2 separate regions of the Homo sapiens genome follow, and region 2 is linked to region 1. The links come from fine-mapping of genetic effects on gene expression. A gene starts in region 1. The other region holds a variant in brackets. All regions are shown on one strand. Distances are from middle to middle.

Region 1 (10,961 bases):
GGCAGGGCTCATGGCCTTGCTCTTGCCAGAAAAGTCATGCTCTTGCAAGAAAGTCTGGGGTTGTTTGAAGGCCATTTGCCTTTGGGAACTCTACTTTATGTGACTGTTGACTTAGTAAGCACCTATGTAAATGCTGAGCTGTATTTAAAATCCAACTAAGTGAACTTCTCACCTTGAGACTCTGAACACAGACACCTGGACCTTCCTGCCAGCTGGCTGACACCTAACGCCATGCTGGGGGCTCGAACTGGTTTGCAGTCTCTCCCAGTCCTCCTGGGCGATCTGCTATGTTCAGCAAACTGGCTTCCGTTGGAGTGAACTTTTCTTCCCATCGTGCTTCCTCTTCGTTAGCCAGGAACTGCCTCCCGGTAAGGAAATCGGCTCTCTGGTTTCAGATGTTCTGATTTTTTTTCAAGGAATTTCTTGGCTCGGGAAAGTGGCCACCCTTTCTCTCTCCCTCATTTTTCTGAGCAGTCCATTTTTGTGGGTGGAGCCCACCTCTCCTATAAGCACCCAGGATAAGCCCAAGGAAGTTGTGACGGTCTAAAGGGTCAAATTTCACTCTCAATTTACACCTACATCTGTCTTTAGTTACTTTTGTTAGTTGGAGACATCCAATGTAAATGGTGTCTAACATAGTGAGTTTGCTTCATTGTAAAAAATCACCTGTAAGACCTAGCAACTTATGCTTCCAGTCCTTGGCTGTCATGGGCATTGTATTACATTTGTAAGCAGAAACTACCATATTTGCAAGCAGAAAAGCGAGTCATTTTCCCTTTAGGTAGAAAAGGTATGCAATATTGACATCCCCCAGAGCTGTGCTGTTTGATGCCATTGCCCTCCTGGGGAACTGAAGACAGAGAGAGCAATGGTGGGGCTAGAGAGAGAAAAAACAGAAAAATGTCACCAGAGTTTCCAGAGCTGTTAATTGTGTTCCTCTCCCCCCACATTCATCAGTGGCCTTAGTGACTGTTTTCTACAGAAAGGGTAATATCATGGGCTGTATGGTCAGGCCCTGGGCTATTGGATGCTATCCGGTACTATAGGGTGAGTGGAAGGAGAAACTGGAATATCTAGATGATCTTCCCCATTTCTCCAACAGCTCCAGGACAGCTTTTAAATTAGAACTGACAAAGGCTGAGGGAAGTTTTAGGTAGGTGGAAAGGAAGGTAATGTTTTTATACCTGCAATCTTTTTGCATAACAGATTATTTTGTTATTTGGGGTTAATAAAGGCAAAGAATAGGGTAAGAAAAAGCTCTTTTTGTCTTTCTCTAATGACCAGGGGAGTCTCAAACTCTAATCCAAGGATTTACGAATGAGAGAGAAAGGGATTTCAAGAAGTGTATTGTGATAAAATCTGAAAAACTAAAATTTCCAAACTGACTCTAAAAATGCCTTACAAGATTTTAAATTAAATGAGTTTTAAAAAAATTACCCCACTGGAAATCCTTTACTAGCAAAGATAGAAAACATTAGATTTTTCGTTATTGCTTTTAGCAAAAGTCGGGTAATCTGAGGAAATGTAAAGGCTAGGCTGTACTTTCTTGATATTAAGCGAAGTTTACCTCCTGCCACCTGCATGGAGTAACCAGTTCAACGTGGTTGAAGTAACCCTTCAACGTGGCAGAAATAGAAAAACTGAATTTTAAAATGCAATTAATAGAATTAGATAGCTTTGGCTGGACATGCTACTATCACTTCTGAAAATACTCTTGTTGCTTTTACTGCTTCTCCTAACCCCTCCAAGAATGGCAGACACCAACCATCAAGCCTTCCACTGGCTTCCTGTCCTGCTTTACAGACACGCACAGGCACACCTGAAATGAGACATACATACATTCCCTCGCTGGAAAATAAAATGAATTACTCCAGTAGGAAACAAATTCTCCAACCCTTCACCAATTCAGGCATTTACTAAAGATAATCTAAGGGGCTTTTTCTTCCTTTGCTTCTCAAAATTCCCCTTTAGGTCTCTGCCCCAGAGCCCCCTCCCGGGAAACCACATTTGCTCCACTGCACTGGCTTCCAGGCATGGAAGGGAGGTGTATCTGGAGACCTGGGAGACACCTTGATTTCCTTCCCCAGCCCCTTCCCGCAGAGCTGTGGGAGCAGATACTGACTTTTTCCTTCTGACCTCTCTAGGGATGCCTTTCCATTAGAGGGCAAAGAGGAAGAAGAGGAACTGGGTTAAAGATGGCCTCTGCTGAACACATATGTCAAAATCAGCTAAGCTAAACCGAATAGGGCCCAGTTAACCTCAACGATGTTCACCACAACAGAGCAGGCTGGAAGATTCCCCCACCTCTCAATTTTAGGTGCTTGCTTCCAAGGGCAGGCTCCCTTTGGAAGCAGAAGCTGAACTTCTGGCTAGGAGGGGCTATTCTAGAAGAGACCGAAGCTAAATCTGTGGCCCAGGCCTGCACACCTCCATCTGCAAGGATGTCCACTTTGAGATGCAGAAGATGATTCTCCCTGCCCGCGTCGGGGCCGACTACGAGAGGCAGTGCAGGCTCCAGGAGGAAACAGCCCTTAAAGTACTTCTCTTATGTTGGCCAGGCACCTCGCCACCCACCAGAGGGCTGTCATTTTACCTAGAGGCCTGTACTACCCAGTCACTAGCCTCGCCCAGAATCTCCAGGGCTCTCGAATCGGTCTGGCTGGGGAAATGGAGGAGGTTGGGGAGGGAGGACTCTCAACGGGATTCACGAGGGACAGGGAAATGCCGCGCGCCCTGGGGATAAATCTTAAAAAATAATCCCTCTCTCCCCGGGAGCGGGGCCTAAGTGGCTGCACCCCCGGAAGCCCAAGGGCCGAGGTCCTGGAGCTGCCGCTCTAGGGCGGTCCCCTCGGGATTTCTTCCAGGAAGGAAAGCAAAACACAACAAAACAAATCCAGACTCCACGTGGGGCTGGAACCCAGTCCCAGCCCTGCTGTGTTCTAGCTGGTCCCGGGTTTGGACGCCAGCGAAGGAAGGCGCGCCCGCGCTCTCCATCGGGGGGACTCGAGGGCAGCGCCGTGCGGGGAACATCCCGGCCAGCCCCGGCCATTCGAGGGGACTTGCGTCCCAGAGGAATTGCCCTCATCTCTCCCACCAGCGCCGACAAGCTCAAACAATGGCGCGGACGCCCACCCTGGTGGCCTAACCAGGACCTGGCCCCGCTCAGCCGCCAGGCCTTCCGGGACAAGCCCCTTCCTGGCACTTTCTCTTGGAGCGCTTTGGGGAGAAGGGAGGGGGACTGGGCTCATTTGGAGGAGCAAAAGACAGCCCTCGCGGAAAAAGAAAGAAAAATCAGCAAAATCGCCTTAGCAGTTCAACCAAAGGTCAACAGCAGCGTTTCCCCAGCAGCTGACAGGTCAAATGGGCAGGAAACAACTGCGGGGAACAAAGCCCCCCGCTGTCCGGCAGGGGCGAACCCGGCTCCTCCGCACTGAACAGTTTTGTTGTGCTTTTTGGAGGGGAGAGGTTTCCGCCCCCTTTCCAGCTCCCTTCCTCCCGGGTGGACAGGTCGGAAGAGGAGCGGAAAGGAAAGGAAGGGAGGGAGGCGGCGAAGGCGCCTGCGGGGGGGAGGAGCGGCTCTTTGATGGGTGTGGGGGGGTCTGAACTGCCTACCGGGCTCGGAAGCGCAGACCCTACCCGCGCGGAAGAATGCGCGGAATGCGGCGGCGGGAGGCGGAGGCGCAGCGCGGCGGGGGGCGCCCGGACCCCACGCGCCCTGCCCGCTCCCTAGCCCGAGGGCCGCGGACCCACCCTGCCCTGCAGGTGTGGCGGGCGCCAGGTCCCTCCAGGGACTCGGACAGCACGCGATTTTTCCAGGATTTCCGACTACCAAATGTGACAAGACAGTCTCGCCGCCGAGAGTTTCGCCAGGGCTCGCTAAAATCCGGCACGCGCCGCCATCAGATAGTCGAAAATCCGGGCTGAACAAAAGGTGATCATTCTCCGCTGCCCGGATTTGCAGGCGCTAGAGGACCGGTTCCGCCCGGCGTCCCCCAGATACCCAGTCCTTCAGCCTCCCGCTCCCAGAGCCTGGATCTAGCCCGGGACGGGGATTGGCCACCTTCCAAGCTGAGCTTGGAGTTGGGCAGCGGGAACGCAGATACAGATCGCTCTACACAGTGTGTGCAACCCAATCTCCCTTTCTGCATTTGCCAGGGTCTTGTTTTCAGTGAAACTGGCAAGGCCAATTGTACCTCGGCGCCCACCCCTCTTCACCTTTTCTCCACCTCTGGGATTCTCCCGGTCCGGCTCAGTGTAGGGCCCCAGCACGCCAAACCAACAGGCCTATCTTGTCCCCACGCGCCCCGTGGTACTTGGAAACTGTTCCCGGGACTCAAGATGGACCGCGCAGAGGAGTCGCTTCATCCTCGAGGCTAGGACCGTTAATGTCAATAAACGGGGCCTCGCTAGGACGGTGCGGAATTGCAGGTGACCGGAGAAACCCGTCCGCACTTTCCCTGAGGACTTGAACCTCGCACTTGCACAGAAACCTTGCAAACCCCTACACACCAACACACACAAAGGGGCGCGCGGGGATCCCCGCAACCACGAATCACGCCGGGGACTCCTTCCCGTGCCAATAAGGCGCAGGCCGCCAAGACCCCCTCCATCTCCCCGACTCCAGCTAGCGCCCGGAGCCCTCGTTTACCTTTGAGCAGGCAGATGTCGGTGCGCTCGGCGTTGCGGCGCAGCGCCTGCACCACCAGCGACACGGTGCTGTCCTCGCGGAGGCTCTCGGCGCGCGGGCTGCGCTCGTCGTAGACGATGACCGCCGAGTAGAGGCCGGAGCGCAAGCGGGCGCGTACCTCCTCCTCGGCGGGCAGGATCTGCTCCAGGCTCACGGAGCCCTTAGCCCGCCGCCGCACGATGGTGTTACAGCGCACGTTGACCGAACCTAGGATGTAGCCCGCGCTGTGCGCCAGGAACGGTCTGCAGTCCAGCAGCAGGCACTTGCCGCCGCTCGGCAGCCCCAGGGTGCCGTGGCTGCCGCTGCCGCCCGCGCCGCCGCCATTCTCGTCCCGGTTCATCAGCCTTTTGAGCACACTGCAGTCCATCTCCCGCAGCTCCTCCATCGTCACCATGGTCGCCGGGAACCGAGGCGGCTGGGCGCGCGAGGAAGAGAAGAGAACCCGGGCCGCCTAGGCTGCAGAAAGGGGCGGGCGAGAGCTAAGAAGGGACGCCTGCAGAAGTGGCCGCAAACTTGGTCCTCAAGGGCTCCCGCGGGAGAGCCTCTTCTTCCCTGTCCCCTTCCTCCCGCAGCCTCGCGGTCACATAGCAGTCGGAGCGGCCTCGGGCGCCCAGCCGGGCGGCGCGCAGAGCGGAGGGGGAGGCGCCGGTGGAGGAGAGTGTGTTTACGAGAGAGGACCGCGGACTCTTTTCGGCGACGGCCTCCCGTGTATTTTTGCCGGTCGCGCGGCTCCTGTCGCCACTGGCGCCAGCGCTGCCCTGCCTACGCTCCTCCGGCGCTCAGCGCACTGCCCCAGCCAGAGTTTTCTCCTCGGCTTAGAGGTTTATTAATGCTCCTCCGCGCTCCCGGGGGAGGGGGCGCTAGGTACTACCCCGCCAGGCCCCGCCCCGTTCCATTCCGGGCCCCGCGCCGTCCCCCGCCCCCCGCGCTGTCCCCCGCCCCCCGCGCTGACTCCCCGCCCCCTCCGGGCCCCTCCTCCCACCCCCTCCCCGGAGCTTGAATGGAGCGCGGCCGCTGGCTCCCGGTCACGGGAACTCGACGTCACAAAGAGCGGAGTAAACAGGGCGCCGGGTGCTCGCCATCAGGCCCATTCATAAAACCGAGGCCGAGAGGAAGAGGGAGGCGGCCTCCGACCCGCCGCCAGCGGCGGGCAGCGCCCGGACTTTGTGAATGGAGCGCGCGGCGCCTTTCGCCGTCTACCCGCGGGCCCAGCCTGCGCCGCGCCTCCAGCCCGACACCGGCACCTGTGCCGCCGCTGCACCCCGCCGCTAGGCGGGCGGCGCCAAAGGAAATAGCCGGCTGAGGAGGCCAGGGCTCGGGTTTGAGCTTTCATCCCTTGGCACCTTCGCGCTTCCCCGCGTGACAGCCCCGTAGGTTTTTCCCGGTTACCCAAGTGGAGAGGGGACCGGAGCGCTGCTGCCCACCCAGCGGGGCCTGACACCTCCTAGCCCCAGACTCCCCGTGCGCTTTCGGCCCGGCCAGTCCTTTCTGAATATGCGATTCCTGAGACGTTAGCGTATGCATTAGCGTGATCGATTTTCATCTAAAGCCATTAAATCAGTTTTATAGCTTCCCCAAGAACGTGGGCAACCCCCTGCTTGGAAGATGAAAGAGAAAGTCCTCCCGCCCGAAGCCCAGGATCGGAGTGAGGTGTGGGGTTTGTTGCTTTACTACCCAAAGGGAGGCATTAATTGCCGGAATGGTGTTCCGAGGGAGGAGAGCAGGCTGCGCTCCTGTCCACGCTTCCTAAAAGATGTTTATTTAACCCTGGTCGGGGGAAAAACAAGGTTTTCGGGTTTGGGAAACGTCTTCACCCTATCTTGCATAGTTGTGAATTATCCTTTCAGGAAATGACAGGGTCCACATTTGTTGCGGAGCTGGACCCTGGAAAATGTACCCGCAAAGAATGACCTTTTGAAAGGACTTCAGCAGCTCTGGGTCCGATTCATGTTTCTGGGCATCCCTTTTTCCTGGTCACGTAGCAGCCCTCCCCATCCCCATTTCTCTTTTGCATTTAATTTCCCAGAGGCGGCTTTTGGCTGGGGGTTTGTGCACGCACGCGGTGGGGACCGTGCAGAAGCCAAAAATCATTCGCCCGACATCTTGCCAAGTCTTGTTAGTGAGAATTAATCACAGAGCAAGGGAGTTACAGGACTCGCTCGCAGTTTCGGAGGCTGCAGAGTAGCGTATTCCATTCCGGGGCGCGCGTGGAAGCCCGACCCAGGCAGCGAGGGCACCGGTACCCGCCGGGTCTCTCCCGCCCAAGCTCACCCTCTCCCCATGCCTTTGTTCCGGGCGGAGCGGCTTTCCCGAGCTCTCACCTCCGGTCCCGGGGGCCATCCCTGCACTCCCCGACCGGAGCTCGGCGGAGCCTCCACTTCCGAGACCTTCGACTGGCCTCGTCCCCCACTGGGCCCCGAATGCCTCGACCCCCGGGCCCTACTCGGATGAGCTGTAGGGGCACCGCTTGGGCAAGGTGATATTTCCTTTTGCTCCGGGCTCCAAAATGGCTTACGATGGCACTGCACGGATCCTTTCTCTTTTTAAAATTTAGTATTTTATTCATCATGGATTTTTTGCATTTTTTTTTCTTTTAAAGAGGCATTGCATCAAGATATTTCTTTTGATTACTGACTTTTCGGCGCCCTTCTTAAATGTTGCGCTCAAGGCTTGTGCTCACCCTAGTCCAGGCCCTGGAAGGAGCCACAACTGTGGACTGACCGAGGCTGCCCGGTGGCAGGACCCTGGGCGTCGGGCACTCCGGGTGGGAGATCAGTGGTCAAAGCCGCACGGCGTGGCCTCCCTGTGGGGAGGGCAAAAGGTGTCTGAGTCCAGTTTCCCATTCTGCTGAATGGGACTGTGGGGGTCTATCTAATAACTCGCTTTCGATAAGGAGCAAGGAGCCCCAGGGGCCCCGACAGTCCAAGGCTGATTTTGCTTTCCCGGGTTGCTCTCCAGCAGCTCAGAAATCCGCCGCCTGCCAGGACCCAGGGCCGGAGCTCTCCCGGCGCAAGTAAACACTGATTCCTTTACAAAGGCTTTAACAAGACATTTCTGGGAAAAGCCTCTCAGGAGGCAGGTCCGGGCCAATTTCACGCGTGTCGCAGGAGCTGGGGAGACGTCCCTGGGGCGCACGGGTCGCGCTCTGGGCCAGCTTTTGTCTACCCTGTTCTGGGGTCGCCTTCCCCGCCGGACCCGCGCCTGGCGCTCACGTGGCCAGTAAATAACAGTCAAATCCAGGGGGAGGAAAATGCCCATAGAACAAAGAGGCTTGCTTTCTGCACCTGACAGTAATCGCTGGTGGAGAAGCCCTAAATCCCGCAGGCGATTCACACGGAAAGGGGTGTGGGAGGGCGCGTGTGAGTGTGTGTGTCCACGTGTGCGTGCCCGCGCCTACGCGGCTGTTCACTGGAAGGGAGTCACAGCTTGGGACTTAATGTGTTTAAGCCGAGAGCCACTTGAATTGCGAAAGCGAAGGCCTGATTTTTAAAAAAGACTAATTTTTAAAATCCACACCCCATTGCCAACTCAGGAATTGGCCTTCAGTTGTGTGAATTTCAGCAAAGGAGATTTAAGTTACCATATTGTATTTATCGGGATACTGTGTAAACACCCTAGATATATATTTTTTAATTGTATGTTTGTGAACCATTGGTCCACAGTTAAATGAGTACAACGCGAGGGCTACTCCATGCCGGCTATAGATAAAACCTGTCTCCAATTCGTCTGCAGTCTGTGGACGAAACATAACCATTTTAAACAGGAACCTTGTGAAACAGCTTGTCAATGAGCAGATCTTGGAGAAAACAAAGGCAATTTGGAGCAAGACACGGAATGTCATTTCAAAGTTAATTTAATTAACTAAGGCATATTTGTAGGAATTGGGATGGGATTGCCCAAGGAGAGGTCTTTTATTTATATTCAGCAGTAAACCTCGGGGTGAAAGAACTTTTAAAAATTCGCTGTGACAAGTAAATCCAGCTTCTCTTTCATCAGTCAGTCCTTAGACCGACCTTATTAGTCACTGTCAGGCTCCAGCAAAACACCTGCTCTTGTTTAGGAACATTTCTTTCCAATTAGGAAGTTGTATGATCGGGGAATCTAAAGCCCGGAGTAGAATCCCCAGAGAGAAGTACAGCTTCTATTCTAGTTTTGATGCCAACCTCTGACTCACTGCTCTGTCCCAAAGTGCCTGAATAAAACTTGCCTGAAAAATCATTAATGAATTAATTAAGGTGGTGATGGAAAGAAAAGTCCTGTGGCTTTTCCTTTCTTGAGCAAAGAGGCAGCCTTGCTATTACGTCGAACTGGAACAGGAATAATCCATTTTGCACAGATCTTGTTGGTTAGGCTTCTTAGATCAACTAATTAGGGAACTTGCCCCCTGGTAGTGGGAAGGCTCAAAAGAACTGGGAGACCCTCTCCTGCTCCTGAAAGCAGAGAAGCCTGTGGTCTACACAGCGTGTTCTTAGGCAACGTTTAGAAATGGAATTGAGAAATGCCTGTCCTTCCCTACGTACCTCTGCCCATCAAGTCAGGACTGAAAGCGAAGGAAAGTCTTCAAAGTTCACACTGAACCTAACCAAAAACTCTCAAAGACATAGCCTGAGGATTTCTTTTTTTAAGTCCTGACTTTGTTACAGATCTTTTTTGTTTTCTATGCTTGATACTCTAGCACTTATTAATGATTTAAAAGGCTATGTATCGGCCAGGCGAGGTGGCTCACGCTAGTAATCCCAGCACTTTGGAAGACCGAAGTGGGCAGATCACCTGAGGTCAGGAGTTTAAGACCAGCCTGGTCAACATGGTGAAACCCTGTCTCTTCTAAAAATACAAAATTAGCCAGCATGACGGGCGCGCACCCATAATCCCAGCTACACTGGAGGCTGAGGCAGGAGAATCGCTTGAACCCGGGAGGTAGAGGTTGCAGTGAGCTGAGATCCCCTCACTGCACTCCAGCCTGGGCGACAAGAGCAAAACTCCATCTCAAAATAAATAAATAAATACAAATAAAAAATAATAAAAGATTAAGTTTCTAACCCAGGGTCTCTGCAGAAAGGTTTTAATGCATTGCTTTATTTACTGCTTTATTTTAAAACTATTCAATCTAGGCTATGCCACCATCTAGCTTGGTGGCCTTGGGCAAGACAGTCTCCTTTGGCCTCACTTTCTTCACCTGCAAAATGAAGAGTTTGGGCAGGATGGTTTCTCAGGTCTGGTCTATTTCCGACCCTGTATGATTCTGAGCAGAAGAAGACTTCTCAGCTCCGAGTCCAAGTTTCATAGGTTTCCCATCTCGCCCTCTGAAGAGCCAAGCACACTATAATGCCATAAGATAAAGGACGATCTCTAGCTCCTCCTTGTCCCTGCTTTAGAATATAAACTCATGGACAGCAGAGCTCATAGTTTTTATTTATTTGTTTAGTCACGTGCTAACGTCCCAAGCATTTTGATAAAACGTCTTCAAAATTTCAGAAACAAATTTTGGAAAGAAACACTTCTCCAAACGGGATAAAAATGAACTCGGAGGCTGGGCATGGATGGTGGCTCATGCCTGTAATCCCCCAGCACTTTGGGAGGCTGGCGGATCACTTGAGGTCAGGAGTTGGAGACCAGCCTGACCAACATTAAAAATACAAAAATTAGTCAGGCATGATGGTGGGTGCCTGTAGTCCCAGCTACTCGTGAGGCTGAGGCAAAAGAATCCCTTGACCCGGAGAGGCAGAGGTTGCAGTGAGTCAAGATTGGGCCACTGCACTCCTGCCTGGACAGGGCGAGACAGCGAGACTCCATCTCAAAAGACAAACAAACAAAACAATACAAAACAAAACTAGGTTATTTGGGGTCACTCTAGCTGTGCAGATTCTCTTATTCATTCAACAAACGTGCTAGACTCAGCAAGAGGTGCGGGAAGTAGGGGGACAGATTTGTCCAAAACACTGTGCCTTCAAAAAGCTGACAGTCTCATTGGTCTAGTCAGGGTGTGATTGCCACTGTACATTGCCAGAAAGCAGGATCTAACAAAGTGTCATTAGAGAACAAACAGCATGCCAGGAAGATTCAGAAGAGAAAGGGATGGAGCCGTGTTGTGAGATTAGGGAAATGGAGGAAAAGGCCATCATGAATAAAGTGCATTTCATCTACTTAAATGTTATCCTTGAAATGTCCTTGAGTTCTCTTGTAGGTTTTTTTTTTTTTTAAACTGTTATCTCACCTCTGACATTCATTCTGCCCTTGTGCCTTGTATTCTTTTCCTTTCATTTGTTAGCATCTC
Region 2 (10,961 bases), 120 kb after region 1:
GGCCTATCCATTTTGTTGCATATATTAAAATTCGAATCACTTTTGTGGTTGAATAATATTCTATTACATGTTTATATGGCATTTTGTTTATCCATTCATTTGTTGATAGTTACCTGGGTTGTTTCTACATTTTAGCTATTGTGACAAATGCTGCTATGAACTCTGATAACCAAACAATCTACTCCAGTCTCTGCTTTCAATTCTTTTGCATTTATACCTAGGAGTGGAATTGCTGAGTCATATGATAGTTCTAGTTGAAGAACACACAAAATCTTTCATAATCAGACTCTTGGATTTATTTTATTTATTACTTATTTATAACTCACCACAAGTGAGTTAGAGCATGTTTTCATTAATATATGCTTGGTGAAACATTTGGATTTTCTCTTCTATGAATTATCTTTCCATGGCCTTTTTCAATTTTATTATTGGGTGACTTGTTTCCTTCTTTTAAAACCTCTGTTCATTATGAAATTTTGCCTTCTGGCTAAACTCTTTATTAAATTTATAACACCCCCCACACCAAAAAAAAAAAAAAGATAGTTCTATGTTTAACCTTTTAAGAAACAGAGAAACTATTTTCTACGATGGCTGCAGCATTTTTGGGGGGCTCAGTGTCTATTGTTTTATTTCATTTCCGGTTGCAGCATTTTATATTCCCACCAGCAATGTACAAGGATTCTCGTTTCTCCACAGCTTGTTTTTTTTCCATTTGTTCATTTGTTTATAGCCATTTTAATGGGTCTGGGTGGTTACACATTGTGGTTTTCATCTGCATTTCCCTGATGACCAGTGATGTTGAACATTTTATCGTGTGTTTATTGGAAATTTGTATATCTTTTCTGCAGAAATGTCTGTTAAAGTCCTTTGCCCATTTTTGAACTGAGTTTTTTTGTTGTTGAATTTTAGAGTTCTTTATATATTCTGGATATTCATGCCTTATCAGATATGTGGCTTGCAATATTTTCTCCTATTCAGTAGGTTGCCTTTTCATTCTCTTGGTAGTATCCTTTGATGCTCAAAATTCTGAATTTTGATGTAGTGCAACTTACCTATTTTTTCTTTTATCGCCTGTTTGCTGTGAACTTTTTTCTTTTAACCAATAGGAACTTAAATTACATTTTAAAGAGTGAGTCCATTAGATATATTGAGTTTATCTGCAAGTTTGCAGAATGGAATAAAGTGAAGCTTCCCTGCACTTCTGAGCCAAGTGCCAGCGAGTCACGCGTGGAAGGATAGGGCTGAGGCTGCCTTGGCTGCTTGGCTGGGTGGCTGGAGAGCACACCTGGCAGAAGATCACTTGGTTCTTAAGTAAGGACAGCAAAACTGGCTTCTTCTTGGTTAATTCACAGATGGTAAAGACAAAGAGATGTTCTGTGTTTGAATATGTGTAAATACCTTAGATAGTGCAGGAGTCACAGTTGATGGTAGACACAGCTTGTTGGACTTTAGAGGTGGAGATTTTTGGACCTGAATCCTAGTTCTGCCACCTACTAGGTATGGACCCCAGAAAAACAATCTTCTAACGCAGGGGTCCCCAACCCCTGGGCCATGGACCAGTATCAGTCTGTATAGTCTGTTAGGAACTGGACCACACAACAGGAAGTGAGCCAGGGGCCTGTGAGCCAAGCTTCATCTATATTTACAGCCACTCCCCACTGCCAGCATTACTGCTTGAGCTCCGCCTCGTGTCAGATCGGCAGCGGCATTAGATTCTCACAGGACCCCGAGCCCTATTGTGAACTGTGCATGTGAGGGATTTAGGTTGCAGACTCCTTATGGGAATCTAATGCGCGATGATCTGTCACTGTCTCACATCACCCCAAGATGGGACCATCTAGTTACAGGAAAACAAGCTCAGGGCTTCCACTGAGTCTATGTTATGGTGAGTTGTATAATTATTTCATTATATATTACAATGTAATAATAATAGAAATAAAGTGCACAATAAATGTAATTGGCTTGAATCATCTTAATACCATCCCCCCCATCTCGGTCCATAGAAAAATTGTCTTCCACAAAACTGGTCCTTGGTGCTAAAAACGTTGGGAGCTGTTGTTTTAGAGCCTCATTTTTTTTTATTATGGGGTTTGTAACATTAAATACTTAAATGGTAGTCCTAAAGATGAATCCTATCTAAGGTAAACAAAATGCCTCATGGTACCTGGCATATAGTAGGTGCTCAATAAATCATAGTAATTATTAAAGGAATGATGACAAATCAAGTATTAATATCATTTTTAAATGTAAAAAGGATAATAATATTAATAACAATAACAAACACTATTTGAAAAACATTATCTTTAGGTGTTCACATCTCTTAACTCATTAAGGTCTCATAATAATCCTATGAGGCATAGATTATTATTACTCCCATTTTACCAATGAAAAAATGGAAATACGGAGAGATTAAGAAGCTTACAACTGATCGAAATTGCAGACCTGGAATTTGAATCCAGGCAGCTGTTTTGCATGGAATATTTCTCACTTCCATTAAGCCCAGTGGATTCTTTTCTGTCTTTAATTATGTTGCTTGTACTCAGAGCAAAGGGTACTGATCCTGCCATTAGGGCAGAGGCTGGTAGCTGCTTTCTCTTTGTGCCGCCAGGATAGCATTTACTGTACCCTCCCTTGCGTGTTCTAGCCTGTGGCTAAGACATCGTTTGTGACCTTAGAGAGATACCAAATAGATGCTGTGGTTCTAGACTTTGCTTCCATCCACCACTAGGCAAAGCCTGTCCCAACCTCATTGAAACAGAGGTAAAGTCATGCCCATGGGGCACTTTTTTTTTTGTTTGTTTGTTTTGAAACAGAGTCTCACTCTGTCACCCAGGCTGGAGTGCAGTGTCACAATTTCAGCTCACTGCGACCTCAGCCTCCGGGGTTCAAGTGATTCTCATGCCTCAGCCTCCCCAGTAGCTGGGATGACAGGCGTGCGCCACCATGCCTGGCTAATTTTTGTATTTTTAGTAGAGACGGGGTTTTGCCATGCTGTCCAGGCTGGTCTTGAACTCCTGACCTCAGGTGATCCGCCTGCCTCGGACTCCCAAAGTGCTGGGATTACAGGCATGAGCCACTGTGCCCTGTCAGAGGACACATTTTTAATTTTCAGAAACATCACCTATAATTTCACCATCATTATTAACATTTTGGCATTTTTCTCATCTAGTCCTTTGTGCATTTTCCCCTACTGTTACCTCACTACTGAAATTTTACTTTATAAGCAGTTTCATATACTACTCTTTTGTTTAAGACATTATGAGCATTGTTTCCTTGTATTATAAATTATTTATAAATACAATTTTTTGACAAATGAAAGAATTACACACTTCAACAAATATTTTAAATGATACTGAAAGATATTTTGATGCATATACCATTGTATATATGAATGAATTTTTTTTGTTGACATAATAGATCATATGACAGACACTATTCTACACTTTTCCTTTTTTTTCCTTCTCTACTTTACCCCTAAATACAGAGAAACATACAAATTTGAAACTAACATTTCCTTTTTATTTTCACCAAATCTCCTTCATTGATTGATATTTTTCTTTTTCTTTTTTCTTTTCTTTTTTTTTTTTTTTTGAGACAGAGCCTCGCTCTTGTCACCCAGGCTGGAGTGCAATGGCACAATCTCAGCTCACTGCAACCTCTGCCTCCCGGGCTCAAGTGATTCTCCTGTCTCAGCCTCCCGAGTAGCTGGGATTACAGGTGCCGGCCACAATGCCGGGCTAATTTTTGTATTTTTAGTAGAGACGGGGTTTCACCATGTTGGCCAGGCTGGTCCCGAACTCCTGACCTCAGGTGATTCACCCACCTCAGCCTCCCAAAGTGCTGGGATTACAGGCGTGAGCCACTGCCCCCAGCCATTAATATTTTTAAATACAAAAGTAATACATGCTTATTCTAACAATTGAAATCATATAAAGATACACAAAGTAAAAGCAAATCATCTCCTTTAGCCTCATCTTCAACCCCATCGCCTTGAGCTGCCAATGCTAACACCTGTTGTAGACTTTCCAATTTTTCCCTTGTTCTTTCAAACAGATGCAAATGCACATTTACATATAGGTAGATTCTTTTTTGGTTTGTTTTTACCCAAATATAATTGAAGTAAACCCATTAGTCTACAATTTGTTTTTGGATCTCCCCCAACACCAGGATATACCGGGAACATTCCTAACAATTCAAGACATATGGCTCAATTGTATATTTTTTTCTTTTCTAATTTCTTTCTCTTTCTACCACTACCACAAGTGTGTGTGTGTGTGTGTGTGTGTATTTGGTCTCACAAGTCTTATTTGCAGTTTGTCTTTGCTGGCACCTCTGCCCACCTTGTTAATAGGCCTACATTTGTTCCAGGATGTTCCTAGCTCCTAATCCTACCCGTCTAGGTGAAAGGGGTACCACCTAACTGAACACACTTGAGAGACCCAATTCAACCTGATGCCTGATCCTTGAAGTTAAAGAGAATGGGGGACCTGTGGCCCAGCACTACTGCATGTAGAAAACCATGGAGCACTTATTTCCTGAGCTTCTAGGCCCAGAGTCTTTGAGGGAGGATGCTGTGGATAAAAGAGAGCCAATAAATAAAACCCCTTTCTTCCTGTGAGTTCTGCATCAGTCAAGATATAGAAACAGGGGTCAGATGAAAATATTACCTTACTGATGAGCTATGCTAAGGACACAGCTTGGAACTACAGCCACCATGAGCTCAAATCAAGTTACCCATCCATCCCCACTCCGATGCGTACCCATAGTCAGAGCTCGATGACCCCTTCAGACTCTTCCTAGACAGGGGGCTAGGTTTGGCTGTTCCTCCTTCCCAATCTGACCACTCAGAGACGCCACTCAGAGACACCAGGCTTCCTGATTTGTTGAGGAGTGAGAGAGTTGGAAAAATTGGTAGTTGAAAACATGGGTAGATGTTTACTCTCCTACTTCTGCAAGGGTCTTTTGAAAGGGAAGAAGTTCCAACTTTAAGGGCTGAAGCAGGAAGGTTTGGATGGGAGATACTCCCCTTAGATGACATGCTGAAGGGTGAGTCATGCCACACAAAGTAGTTTCTACTTCAATCTGTTGTTCAACAAATATACTCTTATCATTATGATCATACCAGACAGGTACTACATATCCAGCTGGGGATGGTGTACATTTTGAGAACATCTCTCAAACCTTTAGTGGCAGCTGCACTTCTGAGAGCATGTTTTCCCCCCATGAGGTTTCGCTGGAAAGACCCAGAAATTCTGAGCATGACTGTTGCACACCCACGTTGCAGGAGGATGGGGACAGGGTGACATGCACCCAGAGACAGCATCCACCCACAGCTCCATTTGCTCAGCTGCCAAATGAGGTGGTTGATTCAATTATCTCCCTAAGGACCCAACTGTGTCAAACTTCTGTCATTCTGAAACACCACCACCCCCGTAACTGCTGAGGACCACCTTG[T/C]CCATAAATAAACTGGCAGAGCTAGGTAAACTTGCTGAATTTCCAAAGGCCAAGACACCAGAGAGTTCTTTCAGTCTTGATCAGGACAGGATTGTACTGCTAAGCCAAGTAAGCAAGGTTGGGACACATCACTACTGCAAATATGACACTCTCTGTACCTGTAAAAGCCACCTCATAGGGACTATAAACTGGTACAGCCTCTTGAAAGTATTCATCAAAGTAAAAAAATAGACACCTCTCCTTTGTTATGGTTTGAATGTTTGTGTCTGTCCAAAATCCATGTTGGAATCTAAGACCCAGTGTGATAGTATTAAGGGGTGGAGCATTTTGGAGGTGAATAGGCCATGGGGGCCCTGACCTTGTGAATGAAATTAGTGCCCCTATAAAAGAGGCTTCAGAGAGCTGCCTGGCCCTTCTATCTCTTTTGCTGTCTGATGACATAGAGTTTACCCCTTCCACCATGTGAGAACATAGCAAGAAGGTGCCATCTTGGAAGCAGAGAGCAGCCCTCACCAGACACCAAGTCTCACCTGCCAGTGCCTTGATCTAGGACTTCCCAGCCTCCAGAACTGTGAGAAATACTTTTCTATTATTCATAAATTACCCAAAGTCTCAGTCTGTTTTGTGCTGCTATAGCAAAATGCCACTGACGGGGTGATTTGTAAACATTAGAAGTTTGTTTCTCACAGTTCTGAAGGCTGGGAAGTTCAAGATCAAGGCACTGGCAGTTTTGGTGTCTGGTGAAGGCTTGGTCTTTGCTTCCAAGATGGTGCCTGGAGCATTGCATCTTCCCGAATGGAGAAACACTGTCCCTCACATAGCAGAATAGTGAAACAGCCTACTGTTGAAAGTCCTTTTACTAAGGTATTAGGCCAGGTGCAGTGGCTCATGTCTGTAATCCCAGCACTTTGGGAGGCTGAGGTGGGAGGTTTGCTTGAGCCCAGGAGTTTGAGACCAGCCTGGGCAACATAGCAAGACCCTGTCTCTATAAAAATAAAATAAAATAAAATAAAATAAAATAAAATAAAATAAAATAATTAGCCATTCATGATGGTGAGCACCTGTAGTCCCAGCTACTTGTGAGGCTAAGGTGTGAGGATCGATTGAGCCCAAGATGTTGAGACTGAAATGAGCCATGATCGTGTCACTGCACTCCAGCCTAGGCAACACAGCAAGACCCTGCCTCAAAAAAAAAAAAAAATAGTTAAACCCACTCATGAGGGTGGAGCCTTAGTGTCTTAATCACCTCTTAAAGGCTCCATCTCCCAATACAATTACATTGGCAATGTATTTCAACATGAGTTTTGGAGGGGGATAAACAGTCAAACCATGGCACCCAGTCTCAGGTATTTTGTTATAGAAGTACATATGGACTAAGACACCTTTGATCCAGCAATTTTACTTCAGGAAATTTATTTTATAGAAATAAATTATACACATCTCCAAGGATAACTGTACAAAAGATATGTATTGCAGCATTCCGTGTAATAACAAAAAACTCAAAATAACTTAAATGTCTATTAATAAAAGATAGGTTAAATAAATATGGTTCATATATAGAATGGGATAGCCATGCAGCTATTAAAAAATATAATAAGGAGACTCTGTAGATACTGACATGGAGAGCTGTCCAAGACAGAGTTTGATTGAAAACAGTAGGATGGGCTGGGTGCGGTGGCTCACGCCTGTAATCTCAGCACTTTGGGAGGCCGATGCAGGCGGATCACCTGATGTCAGCAGTTCCAGACCTGCCTGGCTAACATGGTAAAATCCCGTCTGTACTAAAAATACAAAAATTAGCCAGGTGTGGTGGTGTGCGCCTGTAGTCCCAGCTACTCAGGAGGCTGAGGCAGGAGAATTGCTTGAACCTGGGAGGCGGAGGTTTCAGTGAGCCGAGATTGTGCCACTGTACTCCAGCCTGGGTGACAGAGCCAGATTCTGTTTCAAAAAAAAAAAAAAAAAAAAAAACAAGAAAAAGAAAAAAAGGAAAGAAAAAAGAAAACAGTAGGATGTCCACTTTATGTGTTTAGTGTGACTACATTTTTTTGATGTGTTGGTGGGGAGTACTTGTATATTCTTAGAAAATAAAAACACACATCCCAATCTCTTAACAGTGTCTACCTTAGGGGTCTGAATTGTCTGCATTTGGGTGGGGTTATTGGAAAATATTGGACTTTTATTTTATTTTATTTTTTTATTTATTTTTGAGACGGAGTCTCGCTCTCTCACCCGGGCTGGAGTGCAGTGGCATGATCTTGGCTCACTGCAACCTCTGCCTCCCAGGTTCAAGCGATTCTCCTGCCTCAGCCTACCAAGTAGCTGGGACTACAGGAGCCTGCCACCATGACCAGCTAATTTTTGTATTTTTAATAGAGACAGGGTTTCACCATATTGGCCAGGCTTGTTCGAACTCCTGACCTGTGATCCGCCCAACTTGGCCTCCCAAAGTGCTGGGATTACAGGCGTGAGCCACTGTGCCTGGCCTTAATTTTAATTTTTATATATGTCTATACTCTTCAGTTTTTTTTAAAACAATAAACATTTATTTGTTACTATTATTTTTACTTATAAAAAATACTTTTTAGAGACAGTCTCATTCTGTCACCCAGGCTGGAGTGCAGTGATGTAATCATAGTTCACCGTAGCCACGAACTCCTGGGCTCAATGATCTTCCCACCTCAGCCTCCCGAGGAGCTGGGACCACAGGTGCGTGCTACTATGCCAAGCAGCATTTATTTTTTATTTTTTGGCACATACACAGTCCCCTCAATCCTCAGAGGAGGAAGAGATAGCCTTGGCCTCTGCTCCCCTGCTTTCTCATCATAGAACGTAAGACAGTGTCAGGGCTGAGTCAATGGAAAGGAAATGTGTTAAATCGAAAACATTAAGGTGACATCACCTTGTTGAAAGCCCTCAGGGACATCTTTGACATCACTGACAGACAGGTCCATTCCAGAGTGCATGGGATTTGATTTGTAAACTAGAGGTTTGATGGGTCTGAGTTCACAGGTAGGCAAAAATGCTGCTCCTCTGAATGAGAAAACACTGAAAACAGCACCCAGCCCACGCATCACCCAGTTTTAAATATCTCTTGGTGGGATCATTTCTGAGCCCCACTATCTTGTGGCAAACCACGTTTTCCATGGTGCCCAACAAGAGTTTACACACCTGCTTGTTTTCTATGATTTACTTCTTCTATGGCTGTATTTGTGCAAACCATACACAGTGGTTGACAGAGAGATGAAGGTACTCGCCTTTCTATGAATGGTTGAGAAACTGTCTACAAACCCTTTCCTGGGTGGGTAAACTCGATGTTGCCTGACCTCACAAATGTTAAGAAAAATAAGATTACATCACAGTACTATCCAGGCCCCAATTATGCTGGATCTTTCCACCCTGTCAACTGTAGAACCCCAAGAGCCTTTCAAGGTTAGTCTTCTCCTTCCTGTAGAATGCCTGGGAGTTCCCTGGAGGTATCTTTAATGTAGACAATGATCTTTGGCAGCCTCTTGTCCCACCACTCTGTGTTGGCCTCTGGGGTATATGTCTCTTGGGATTCTCTTCCCACTCTGGCCAGAACCACAGCTTGCTGCTTGTAGGGCTGCTCTCCCCAGGCACCTGTGGCCTCCTCAGTGGGGCTGCCTCTCACACCACGGATGCAGACATAATCACAATTTTTTTCCCTAGTGTGCTTCTAACTAGATGGAACTCAGTGGGTAATAGAGGATACTATGGTATGGAATGCCACCTAACTCAACAAGCTATATGCATCTGAATCTCTGCTGTGGGAAGCTGAGACCCTCCACCATACTTGTGAAGCACTGAAAGGACCCTCCAGTGGCAATGTGAAAGACTATTGGGTAAGACAAGTGAGGAAAAAAGCAATAATGAAAGAAAAGGAATATAGCTGAAGACTAAGAGGGGCAGCAGGTAAACTGCTAAGAGAATGATGAAAGAATTTTAAGGCTAGTGGGTCAAAGATTTCACTGTTTCAGTCTTCAACCGGAGGCTGAATGAGTATCTCTGAGGGATTCCATGGCGAGAGGTTTTACAGAGTAAATCTTTGATATTTGGGAAAAATACTTACTAGAGTATTTACTAGTACTTACTAGATACTTTGGAAATCCCCACACATACAGATACCGTTATAACAGAATTTAATGTTAGAAATTTGGGTCAGAAGAAAAATATTAGGGCCCCAGCAAAGTATGTGAGTTGGGCATTTAGCAAGGCCAACTCTTTAGCCAACTGACCTGCTCCTTCACCACTGGCTCAAAACTTGGATTCAAACTTGTACTCCCTCATAATTACAAAAGAGTATGTCATGGATTTTGAGATCATGTGTCAACAGCTGCAACTGAGAACATCATGCAGCAGAGTGCTAAGGATCTATTATACAGTGCAAGGAGTTGTGTTGGGCCATGTCTAAGAGCTCTCCCAATTTGGGATTATCACAATGAAGTGTGACATTATTTTCCATCATACTTCATTGACCTAAGCAATTTACCCACAAAGGCTAGATCTTCAGTTCACACCCTGAACAAGTCCTGTCAGCCTGAGAATCCCTCTAGATGAGCCTGTTTCTTTAAAACAGTTCTCAGCCTTCTCCTGGGCTTCAGCCAGGCCTTGATGGCCAGGGATGGATTCTGTATTTTTCCGTGCACATAGAACTTCTTTGTTCCTTCTTTCTGACTTATTTTCCTCCCAAATAAAGGGCAGAGGAAAGGAGATTATCGAAGAAAGTCTGGCAAATGGGATGCAAGTTATCCAGTTGTACTATTCAGTGGGAAAATCTGGCTGTAAGCCTAGGAACTTAAAATGATGTTTCTAGATTTGAAAATATAATCTCAAAATGCTTCCATTTTGTGAAGGGTCAGTCCCCAGCCTCCATGCATAAAAGATAGACGGGAAGGACTAGGCAGGTGGAGAGTCATGATCGGGGGTACAGGGAAGAGTGAGGGCTTTTAGAAAGTGGTGTGGCTATAGTTCAGAGTCCTCACCCACCTGGGGTCGGGAGCTGTGGGTTTTCCTGTAGTGCTGCCTCTGAGCACTGTAATCTTGGGCACATCACTTTGTTTCTTTTCACAACTGAGTATCCTCAATGTAAAGATAAGAAATTAGGCTGGGCATGGTGGCTCATGCCTATAATCCCGGCACTTTGGGAGGCCGAGGCGGGTGGATCACCTGAGGTTGGGAGTTCGAGACCAGCTTGACCAACGTGGAGAAACCCCGTCAGTACTGAAAATACAAAAAATTAGTCAGACATGGTGGCACATCCCACTGTAATCCCAGCTACTCGGGAGGCTGAGGCAGGAGAATTGCTTGAACCCGGGAGGTGGAGGAGAGCCAAGATTGTGCCATTGCACTCCAGCCTGGGCAACAAGAGCAAGAATTTGTCCCCCCAAAAAGAAAAAGAGACATTAGACCAGATGTTCTAGAAGATTCCTTCCATCTCTATCAGCCATGGATCTATGATTGTGATTACCACCCCTTCTAAGGAGCAGATT

The links. PIP is the estimated chance that this variant, and not a neighbour inherited with it, causes the effect.
Region 2: its variant is fine-mapped to the expression of DUSP4 in whole blood (INTERVAL, PIP above 0.99). The same link has a PIP of 0.9 or more in blood mononuclear cells.

Annotation. Positions count from the first base shown.
Region 1 is chr8:29,345,198-29,356,158 of GRCh38, forward strand. DUSP4 (dual specificity phosphatase 4) reads right to left here and starts at 5,487. Exons shown (of 4, transcript NM_001394.7): 1 at 4,649-5,487. The coding sequence starts at 5,081. LOC124901924 (a long non-coding RNA gene) reads left to right here and starts at 5,777. Exons shown (of 2, transcript XR_007060876.1): 1 at 5,777-6,337. RefSeq lists silencers at 3,605-3,774, 5,345-5,664, 5,855-5,994, 10,184-10,482 and enhancers at 4,485-4,986, 4,515-4,664, 4,987-5,486, 6,185-6,254, 6,295-6,404.
Region 2 is chr8:29,464,136-29,475,096 of GRCh38, forward strand. No RefSeq gene overlaps it. Among named protein-coding and RNA genes, the nearest start is that of LINC02948, 93 kb to the right of the region's middle. RefSeq lists an enhancer at 5,114-5,483. The variant T/C (reference allele first, on the strand shown) is at 5,455.